3 separate regions of the Homo sapiens genome follow, and all the other regions are reported to be linked to region 1. Evidence: microRNA targets listed by miRTarBase, many of them from high-throughput screens and not tested one by one. Region 1 holds a microRNA gene; each other region holds the end of a gene's coding sequence.

What was found. The annotated mature microRNA hsa-miR-5685 reads ACAGCCCAGCAGUUAUCACGGG and lies in region 1 at 2,785-2,806, shown strand. An mRNA with a match to its seed (bases 2 to 7 or 8) in the 3' UTR can be bound and repressed. Matches are read on the target gene's strand: a 7mer-m8 pairs with bases 2 to 8, a 7mer-A1 pairs with bases 2 to 7 and ends in A, and an 8mer does both.
Region 2: miRTarBase lists POU2F3 as a target of hsa-miR-5685. Seed matches in the 3' UTR shown: 7mer-m8 at 1,483-1,489 and 7mer-m8 at 1,808-1,814.
Region 3: miRTarBase lists RBL1 as a target of hsa-miR-5685. The part of its 3' UTR that is shown has no 7-base or 8-base seed match.

Annotation. Positions count from the first base shown.
Region 1 is chr6:53,274,218-53,278,841 of GRCh38, forward strand. It overlaps MIR5685 (microRNA 5685), which reads left to right and starts at 2,776; the gene lies at 2,776-2,854. ELOVL5 (ELOVL fatty acid elongase 5) reads right to left here. Exons shown (of 8, transcript NM_021814.5): 4 at 1,962-2,039; 5 at 873-1,044.
Region 2 is chr11:120,317,937-120,320,936 of GRCh38, forward strand. POU2F3 (POU class 2 homeobox 3) reads left to right here. Exons shown (of 13, transcript NM_014352.4): 13 at 417-2,009. The coding sequence ends at 456. Among named protein-coding and RNA genes, the nearest start is that of TLCD5, 5.9 kb to the right of the region's middle.
Region 3 is chr20:36,996,178-36,999,177 of GRCh38, reverse strand. It overlaps RBL1 (RB transcriptional corepressor like 1), which reads left to right. Exons shown (of 22, transcript NM_002895.5): 22 at 249-2,829. The coding sequence ends at 419. Among named protein-coding and RNA genes, the nearest start is that of SAMHD1, 46 kb to the right of the region's middle.

The sequences.
Region 1 (4,624 bases):
ACCATCATGAGCTCTGACAGTGGGAGGAAGAGCAGAAAGCCCCAACTCTACCCACCTTTCTGTGGTCTTAGTTTCCTCCCAAACCCAAAGGATCTGTATTTGGAAAGCTTTTTTTTTTTCCTAGCTCTGGAATTCCATGACACTGTGAATCTTAGCAGGCTCAGGTAATCAAGGGCAGTGCTATCCCAGAGAAAAAAATATCCATAAATAGACCCATAGGTTCTCAGTTAAATTCTTCAGTGTTTGGATGACGGGACTTTTGACTGAGACATTTGCTAAAACTCCCAGGCTGAATCTGAAGGTGGCAATCTCTGAAAATTATAAGAAACTTTGGACTACAAGCTTTCCAAAAACCAAGTACAACCTTAGAAAATTTATATCAAGTTTTGGTGCTCGTTATAGAAGACACCTTGATCACCATGCTTCAGGGAATATGAGGGTTGTTAGAACATGTGGAGACTTCCTAATGCATGACAGCTAAAGCTGTATTTCAAAATGAGCCTTGCTCCCTGGTACTCATGCAACAGTGTGATCCTATTTTCCTCACCTGCCCGTCTCAAACCTTCCACACCATACAGAAGGACCAGAAAGAACCTGGAAAGTTGCCCTCTAAGTCAGAGAATATTGTACCTATTCCTTAATATGTCCCCAGTGGTATCTCCCTCATCTCACCCAATCAGCACAGAAAGTTCACTTAACTAAAAAAGGGTTTTGTGTGCATAGGTACATAAACTATCATTAAAAGCAACTTGAACACAAAGCTGAAAGCCTGACCTAGACATTTACAGAAACAGCACCTTTTCTGAAAGCCTTAGTTTCAACTCTCCTCCCTGCTCACACCTGTTCCCCAAGTCCCCGTCTCTAATACTTACAGTGGCCGCAGGGGACCCAGTTCATCACAAACCACCAGATGTTCAGCATCGAGGCATGGTGGTAGACGTGCAGGACCGTGATCTGGTGGTTGTTCTTGCGCAGGATGAAGAAGAAAGTGTCCATAAATTCTATGAGTTTGGAGAAGTAGTACCACCAGAGGACACGGATAATCTAAGAGGAAAGGGTCAAAGATTTAAGGCTTATCCTCACGGCTTCTCTGGAATATCACCTCTGACATGTTTCACTAATATCCAAAAATCTGATGTCAACTCGGAGAAGCCCGAGTGCCCCAAGAGCTCTTAATGTCCATCAGTGGCTGGGAGCTATGGTCACTCTCCAAGTACCTTTAACCAAAGAACATGATTGGGTTGGGACAGCTGGAGGGGTTTGAAATGACTACAGGGAATATTTTTGAAAGGGTCCCTGACACTCTTTGAGACTAACAAAAACATGAGGCTCAAGGTTCAAAACCTTGAAGTCTGCCTATTCCCTCTGGAAGCAGCCTGCACAGCCATTAGCAAAGGAAAACCATCTGAAAAACGCTATTGATTTCAGGGACTAACATGGAGCAGCCGACCTGATAAGTGACACAGAAGAAAAGGAATCAGAACCTGCAGTGTCAGGTCTCTGCCCAATTAAACATGTCAAACAAGTGCTCTAAGGAGATGACTGCCCATGCTGAGCTGCGACTGTTGGCCTGTGATTTAAAACAAACCTCATGAGTGGAAGTCAGATTTTATTTTTAACACCACTACTCGGAAAAAAGTACTTGGATGAATGATTTTAAAAATTTAAGACATTGCTCTTATGATCCTGATTGTGTAAATATAACATACTGACTGCATGTGATTTTTCCTGCCAATTGTTAACCGGAGTTATTTTTACAGAGGGGGATGCTTTAGGTTTTATTTTATACCTTTCACATTCAAATTTTAATTTGATGTGTATATATTGCCTTTTTTATTCTTTTAAAAATATCAACAGGGATTGCCTGGGCAGTGAGGTTATGGGCCATTTTGTATTTTATACAATTTATTTTTAAAAACTCAACACTTATAATAATAAAGTTTCTGAAAAAGAGACAGTACCTTCATATCTGATTCTCCTGCGGTGCGTGTGCCCTGACAGAAGAAGTTGTATTTGCCTTCCCATACTCCTGTTACTAACTAAAAAAGAAGAAAGAGCCAGTCACCAACAGCATCTGAGCCATGTAAAGTCCTCATTGAACTTTATTAGTTGCAGAATCTGTGATAATTTACCTTGGGCTGTGCTGAGCCAAGTTTGCTCTGAGAAAAAACAATTGTAGGCAAGTGTAAACAAAAGGAAAGCTTTAATGACTTGAGTCTCAATTTCCTAAGGGGTGGGCTTAAAAGTCACTCCCAGGCTGCTGCCCTCAGAGACCTTCCTTTACCACGCTGCTTCTCTGCAGAACCCTCAGCCCGTCACCCCCTTGGTCCTAGCACAAGTGCCCAGACCAAGCCAATCACAGGCTCCCTGCTCTGCCCCACAGAAGCCTCTGGCTGCTTTCCCTAAGCCAGTGCTCCTCAAACTTGAGTGTGCAGCACCAGAATTACCTGAGGGGTGAGTTAGTAAAACATGGGTCCCTGGGGGTGTTTCTGTTCCAGTAGGTCTGGGGGCCTAGAATTTGTATGTCTAACAAGGTCCAGGTGATACTGATGCTGCTGATGTGGAAACCATACTTTGAGAACCACTGCTGTAGGCTCAGGGATAATTTAGTCCAACTTTATCTTCATTATTTCCTGTTGTTGTATGTACAATCCTCCGGATCCATGAATTAGGCTTCACAAACTGAAGGCTTCACAAGTGCCCATGCCTCAGAATCACTTGCAGCACAGTAGGCACTATGCTGTCACAGAGAGGACCCCAGAACTGGGGTACAGGCTCTACATCACAGCCCAGCAGTTATCACGGGCCCCTCCCCTCAATGGGCCCGTGATAACTGCAGGGCTGTGATGTAGAGTCTGCACCCCAATTCTTGTGTTCCCTGTCCTTGAACACAAGAGTTTAGCTTGGCGAGCAACACAGATTCCCCCCCAGGGAACAAGAGGTGATTACAAGGATCTGAAGACACCTTGTGATATTTCCACCTGGTCTGACATCAGAAATAAATGGCAAAAAATGGGTGTAGCCGCTGCACTCACGCTGGGTATCCTGCCTTCTATCTGATTTTTCTTTGGTTATCTTTCTTCTTGCCATTTTCCTTCTGCTTTGTCACCTTCTACACATAAAAAAGCACTGAGAGTTAACAGGCTTTTCATGGCCAAAGAAGAGCACAAGGATTTAGCATGGGAGAAGCATCAGTTCATGATGAAGAGCCATGGAATTAGGAGGAAGGCTTGAGTGCCAGGCCCAGCACCTGGGGCAAGCCAGCTAATTCCTGTGGGCTTTTGTTGTTTTTACTATAAAATGATGAGGTTGGACTAAATTATCTCTAAAGGGTCTGTTCCAAATTTCTGTAGCTTCATGTTAACAGACTTTAAAAACAGACCACACAACAAACTATTCTATACTATCTTTGAAAGATCAGTACCCACATGGTAATTCATTAGAAGGTGTATTAACTTTTCTGTCTTCTACTACTCTCTAAAGTCATGGCCAGTCAAGCAGGATCCATGCAGGCTGATCAGAAGTCCTAAGAAGCAAGACACAAAGTCTGAATCCAAAGTGCGTTGGAGGTCGGGGGAGGAAGCTGGCATGCACTCTTGAGACCTGGGGTGGAGAGGGAAGGGCCAGCTTAGCACAGTGCTCTTTTTGCTGCCCTTCTTTCTACCCCAGGAGGGAACCAAGGAACTACCTCCTGTGGCTTGAGGGTACAGAAAGGAAACTGGTGCTTCTTGATGAAATGTTTGTGGGACAACCGCGAATAAGAAAAATAAGGACAACGCAGTAAGGTTTTCATGAAGATAAATTCGTGCAATGTAAAAGATCCTCTTTTTTAAAACAGCAGCCTCTCTTGGCAAAATTAAAAACGTACTAACATATGACTGTCTTCATCAGAGATATTTTTGGAAATGTTACCATTTTATGAATCTTAAATCTGGAACCTACCATCACTGTTTTTTCCAGCGACTATTTTGGTTTATGGTGTCCAGAGACATCCTGGGTTGGTTTTGCTTTTGTCTGTTTTAAAATAGGATGGCTGGTGTGTGTGCACTTGTGGAGGTGTGGATGACTGCATTCATGAATGTCTATCTTGGCAGGGGTGGGGAAAATCAAGGTAGCTCTCTGGAGAAGAGGAGGACAAATCCTCTCTTGTAATTCTGCAGGCGCCTCAATCCCAAAGATGAGAACGGGTTGAAGGGGTCTTGTTAACTCAGCAGAAGGGACTCTTGGACACAGGCTTCCTTTTTAAGAAGGGATCCAGGTGGGATTGCCTTGACTCTTTAAACTAGTTAACCTAACGTTCCATTTGCCCTCTCCCCACCCATAAATGGGGCAGGGGAATCCATGTATAAAACACCTGTTGTCTTTGGAGTTTAGTTAAAGAACTCAAACCTCAGTATTGGGTGGTGAACTTTTTTCACTCCTGAAGCATAAACCAGGTATACACACAAGAAGCTGCTCACTCGGTGCCACTCCACTTGACCTAGGCCCACCATTCCTCTTCCACCTGTTGAGGTTCCCTGTAGGAGCTCTGTCATGCTTCAATGCAACACTCCCTCCACTGCTACTCACACCTACCACACTTCCACTGGGGCCGCTGTGCCCCTCAAACCACTGAATTCCATAT
Region 2 (3,000 bases), not on the chromosome of region 1:
ATGTGTAGGTTACAGACCTGAGTTCGTCAGAAAAGATGAACCCAGCTGTCCAAATCCAGGCGGTTCAGCAAGGCAGCCAGTTCTTATTGGCCAATTGTTGCATAGCCCGAAACGTTGGCGCTCCTCACCTACCCCTACTGAGAGAGAGAAAGAGGACCATATAATATACATTACCAGCTTTAAAAAATTGTTTCGAGGTATAATTCATATACCATAAAATTCACCGTTTTAAAGTGTGCAGTTCAGTGGTTTTTAGTATATTCACAAGGTTGTGCAACCATCAGCGTTATCTAATTCCAGGATGTTTTTATTACTCCTACCTGCAAAAGCCCCTGTACCTGCTAGCAGTCACTCCCCATTCCCATCTTACGCCATCACATTATTAGCTTTAGGATTGACTTCTTTCTTCCTTCCAGATCTTGGTACCGATGGAATCATTCCACCTACCTCCACTGAGACCAAAAAGTTTCTCCTACTCCAGCTGGCCCTGTATTCCCCCTGGAAGGAAGGGAATCATGCCTTCTATATACAGACAGATTGCCTTCAGAAGAGTGGAAGAAAATCTCCACTATCAATGAACCCAGACTCTTGTCTTCTTCAAGAGCAAGGGCCTCCGGAGATCCAAACTGTGATTGAACCAAGTGCAGACTCCTAATGCTCTTGAAATACACAGCCCCTCCTAGGAGCTTACCATTTTCACCTTCCTTGCCTATGCCCTTGCCTTCTAGTTCCAAATATTTTAGCCAGCTTCACTGTGGCAATAGTCTTTCAGAGAAAAGACTTCTTGCTGTTATTCTCCAACTCATCCGTGGGCTTCTGGGGACAGCCATTTGGCTGGGGTGCCAAACACCAGAAGGGGAGATAATAGTTTTGACTCTGAACTTGGCCACAACCCCTGAACTGATCCCAAAATCTGTGAAAAGATTTGAATCTGATATCTCCACCAAAGCCTTGATGTTTTCTCTGTACAGCTAAGTTTTCTGATGGAATCTTCATCTCACCCCATTTTCTTTTTAACCTCGCCCCCTTTTCTACAATCAAATCCATTCATTATTGCGCCCTCCAGGTCCCCTCCTTTTTGCAGAAGGTGTAAAAGAGCTGCCCTTGGTGGGTGCCCTGGGCATGTTGCAACGCCTGCTGGTGCCCTTCTGTCTGTCCACGTCTGCCTAGGGCTCAGGAGTGCTTGTTCTTTCCCTTCCTCCCTGTGTTTCTCTTTATCCTGTCCCCTCTCCTTTCTCCTGGCAGCAGAAAAGGAAGAACACAAGAGCAAACACACAACAATGATGGTGGCAAAGTACCTGTATATAGCCCTTTCCCATTTTTTGCATTATGTTCTTAACTCCTTAATGTGGAATTTTCCAGCAAAATGTTTAACTCAGGTGTGATTTTTGAAAATGTCTCTGTAATATTTTATCTTCTTTAAAAAAAAGGGGGGGAAATACCAAAGTGTGAAATACTGTGCTACCTTCCAGAGTTCCCACATGGGCTGGGATTTTTTTTTCTTTTTCTTTTTTTTTTTTTTTTTTGAGACAGTCTTGCTCCAGCCCAGGCTGGAGTGCAGTGGCATGATCTTGGCTCACTGCATGCTCTGCCACTTGGGTTCAAGCGATTCTCCTGCCTCAGCCTCTCAAGTAGCGGGATTACAGGCGCCCACCACCAAAAATTAGCCCAGCTAATTTTTGTATTTTTAGTAGAGATGGGGTTTCACCATGTTGGTCAGGCTGGTCTTGAACTCCTGACCTCCTGATCCACCCACCTCAGCGTCCCGAAGTGCTGGGATTACAGGTGTGAGCCACCGCGCCTGGCCTGGGCTGGGAATCTTTGTTGACTTCTTTGGGAACATTATCTCTAGAGTCTGCTTTTTTGTGGGCCAGTTTGTAGAGATGTAACATGAAGCCATTCCAGAAATGGTAACTTAAAAAAAAAAAGACTACATGTCTAGGAAACTGTTGAGATTCAAAGGAATCTCACTGTTCCTAAATAAATGTGTATAGTGATTATGAAAAGTATCCCACTGTTGATAAGAAGAGGTTTAGATTCTTGTTCTGTGCCTTTTTGTTGTTGTGGGGGGCATGTGAGTGCATATAATGAAATGGGATGACAGAAAATGTTTCAAATTGGGACATTAAGTGTATTACTCCCCAAACTGATGCTAAAGATGACATATGTTATTACAGGGCCCTGAAGAATTCAGAGTTGTTACTCTCTGTAACATAACTACCTTGAGGGCAGAGTAGGCCAGAGATATTGTAAGTGGGAGGATGGTGAATGTTTAAGGTGAAGTCATTTGAAACTTAAGAGGTGGGGACTGAGGCTAATGTCTCATGTCTCAGATACCCTGAACGGCAGTTGTTCATTACTCACAACATAAAGCAATAAATAGTTAAGGCAGAGGGTAATTTAATAATCACATATTAGCTGGGCTTGGTGGTGTATGCCTGTAGTCCCAGCTACTGAAGAGCCTGAGATGGGAGGATCTATTAAGCCCAGGAAGTCAAGGCTGCAGTGAGCAATGATCATGCCGCTGCACTCCAGCCTGAACAACAGAGTGAGACCCTGTCTCAAATATACATATTTGTCTCATGTATATATATATATATATATATATATATATATATATATATATGGCTTCAGAATGCATTGTGACTTTTGGTTAGGAGGTTGAAAGGCAGCAAACCTATTCTTGTGTTTTTTCTTAGATTAATACAAATTTAAATAGTTACCGTTGGAGCCTGCAGTGAGCCAAGATTGTGCCACTGCACTCCGGCCTGGGCGACAGAGCGAGACTCCGTCTCAAAAAATAAAATAAGTAATAAATAGTTACCATTACTGAGATAAACGCTGACCTGTGGGAAAGAGAGGCCCTTCAAAAATGTAATGGCTGATGGGGAAAAACTAAAATTAGGATTAAACACTTCTTGCAAATAATAATATCCACACAGGAAACCTAAATATTAATAATGAAGAGTTAACCGCTCCCTGATGTTTGAATGGGGCTTT
Region 3 (3,000 bases), not on the chromosome of region 1:
ATCTTGGCCTCCCAAAGTGCTGGTATTACAGGCCACCACACCTGGCCTTAAATCTAATTTTTAAACCACCTGAAAAGATTAGTTCAAGCCATCCCTTATTAGGTTGTTCTAAGTTTTAAAAAGAGTCCTTATCCCAGTGTTAAGATTTGGATAGAGGATAGAGCACAGGAAAAAACAATTAGCTTGGTTGTTTGCTGCCATTTCCCCTCTCCCTCTTTTACTCACACACGTTCTCTATTTCTGCACAGAGTTTGAAAGATATCAACAACATGATAAGGCAAGGTGAGCAGAGAACCAAGAAGCGAGTAATAGCCATCGATAGTGATGCAGAATCCCCTGCCAAACGCGTCTGTCAAGAAAATGATGACGTTTTACTGAAACGACTACAGGATGTTGTCAGTGAAAGAGCAAATCATTAATGTTGTTCTTGTTTCTATGATAAAAGCACTTTCAGATTGTTCTGCAGAAAGTTGGAGCTCTGTCCTTCAAACCTTTTAGCCCTATAGATGATAAATATCACTGGGTTATAAGAAAAAATTGCACAAAAATTATGTGCTTTTTAAAATATTTATCCAAAATGTAGTTGACAGAGATGTATTTTGAGTTGGATTGGAAAGGAATATTTTAAGTGCCTTTTAAAAATACTAATAGTCCGGCCAGGCGCTGTGGCTCACGCCTGTAATCCCAGGACTTTGGGAGGCCAAGGCGGGCAGATCACCGGAGGTCAGGAGTTCGAGACCAGCCTGACCAACATGGAGAAACCCCATCTCTACTAAAAATACAAAATTAGCCGGGTGTGGTGGCGCATGCCTGTAATCCCAGCTACTTGGGAGGCTGAGGCAGAATTGCTTGAACCCAGGAAGCGGAGGTTGTGGTGAGCCAAGGTTGCGCCACTGCACTCCAGCCTGGGCAACAAGAGTAAAACTCCATCTCAAAAAATATATATATATATATAAATAGGGAATTTTTTTTAATGTTTGCTCCTTGAGTTTTCAAGATGAAATAAGGAGAAACCCCATAACTTTTTAGCTCTCTTTTAAAAATAAATGTCTCCTTCTGTGTTCTGTAATATGAGGATAAATAATCTACTTTTGATAGCATGCTTTGAGATATTTGTATTCTTAATTTAATATTGAAGGAAGGGGTTGGTTCCCATAGTACCTGGCCAGAGGGTTATATACCATCCTGTCTCTGGCCCACTGTGGTAATTCCACATCCAGGTACCACCGCCATTCAGAGTTGTCTCACCCCTTCTCGTGCCTTTTCTCTCCTTGAGCTTTATAAACAGATTTGTACCTGAGCCCCAGTGCTACACTCATCCTTGCTTTCCAGCCCTAAGCCATCTCAGCCTGATGTCACAACCCAATAAATGGGGCACTTTCTTCTTTTGTAAACTATTATCATTTTGGTTTCTGTGACATTAACTTAATTATATATGATCGTATTAACTCATGTAGTTCTCAAAATAGGCAGCTGCTTCTGAAGCCAGTAAAATAAAATTCAGTTAGTTATTAAAAACTAAATTCCTATTAGTAAGGTAACACCATGATTATGTGTGATATACTGTTTTTGAGATCATAGTTATCAGTCATTCTCAATATCTAATTGAGTCCCTAAGAATATTTTAAACCTTTTAAAAATCACATAAATATCATCTCATGCCTCATAATTCTAATATATTTAATACATCAGTAAAATAGCTGCTTATTACTTCCCACACTTTGTTCTCAGTATTGTTAGTGCATCATGAGTTTCCTGCTAGTGTTTGACCACTGGGTACTCCTGAAGATGTTTTTTAGTACTAGGGATGCTTTTCAGTATTAGGGATGCTTTTTTCAGTACTAGGGATGTACTAGGGAGTACTGAGTACTCCTGAAGATGTTTTTCAGTACTAGGGATGCTTTTTTCAGTGTTAGGGATGCTTTTCAGTACTAGGGATGCTTTTTTCAGTGCTAGGGATGCTTTTCAGTACTAGGGATGCTTTCCAAAATATCACCTCTTTAACGTTTACTTTTTCTAGTGTGTGTCTGGAATCCAAAGGACATGAATAAGCCACTCATAATTAATTTTGAGAAGTTTTATCAAATGTTTATGTTTCTAACTGCAAACCTTAATTTTGGAAAGGCACAATGTTTAACTCACCTATGTTTAACCATGGCTAATTTAAAATAGTCTAAGATTTGGCCGTCACTAATTAGTATTCTCAAGAATTTCATTTTTCAATTTTAAGAAGAAAAGGGATTTTGGTCACATTTTGCTTGTAAATGAAAATTACATCCTCATTCTTTGTGTAGTATCTACACATTGTTATAAGCCAAAAAACAAAGTCTGTCTGGAATCTTTGTACATATTTGTATGTTGCTATAATTGTTATTTTTATCTTCATTATTGTGCAAAATATAAATGAGCATTTGTACATTGACTGTATAAGAAACCATGGGCCAGGTCCTGTGGCTCATGCCTATAATCCCAACACTTTGGGAGGCTGAGGCAGGAGGATTGCTTCAGTCCAGGAGTTCAAGACTAACCTGGGCAACATAGCCCTCATCTCTACAAAAAATAAAAAAATTAGTTGGGTGTGATGGCATGTGCCTGTAGTCCCAGCTACTCAGGAGACTGACATGAGAGGATCACTTGAGACTGGGAGATTCTGAGGCTGCAGTGAGCTGTGATTGCACCACTACACTCCATCCTAGGTGAGAGGGCAAGACCCTTTCTCAGAAAAGGAAAAAAAGAAATTCTGGACATGTTTTTATCAGTTTTCAGGACTTGGTATCAATGTACATAGAATGGCTAATAAAAATTGGAATTGAGATTATTGAAAAAAAACTCTTTTCTGTATGACTGGAAGCAGTTGCACAGCCATCTGAAATCTGTCTGTTTTAATATCTATGTCTCTAAAATTCCTTAGAATAACTTAAAAGTTAATGTTCCTGTGGTTTCCAGGGTCTAGGGGGAAAATGAAAAATAACTGCTTAATGGATACAGAGTTTTTTGGGG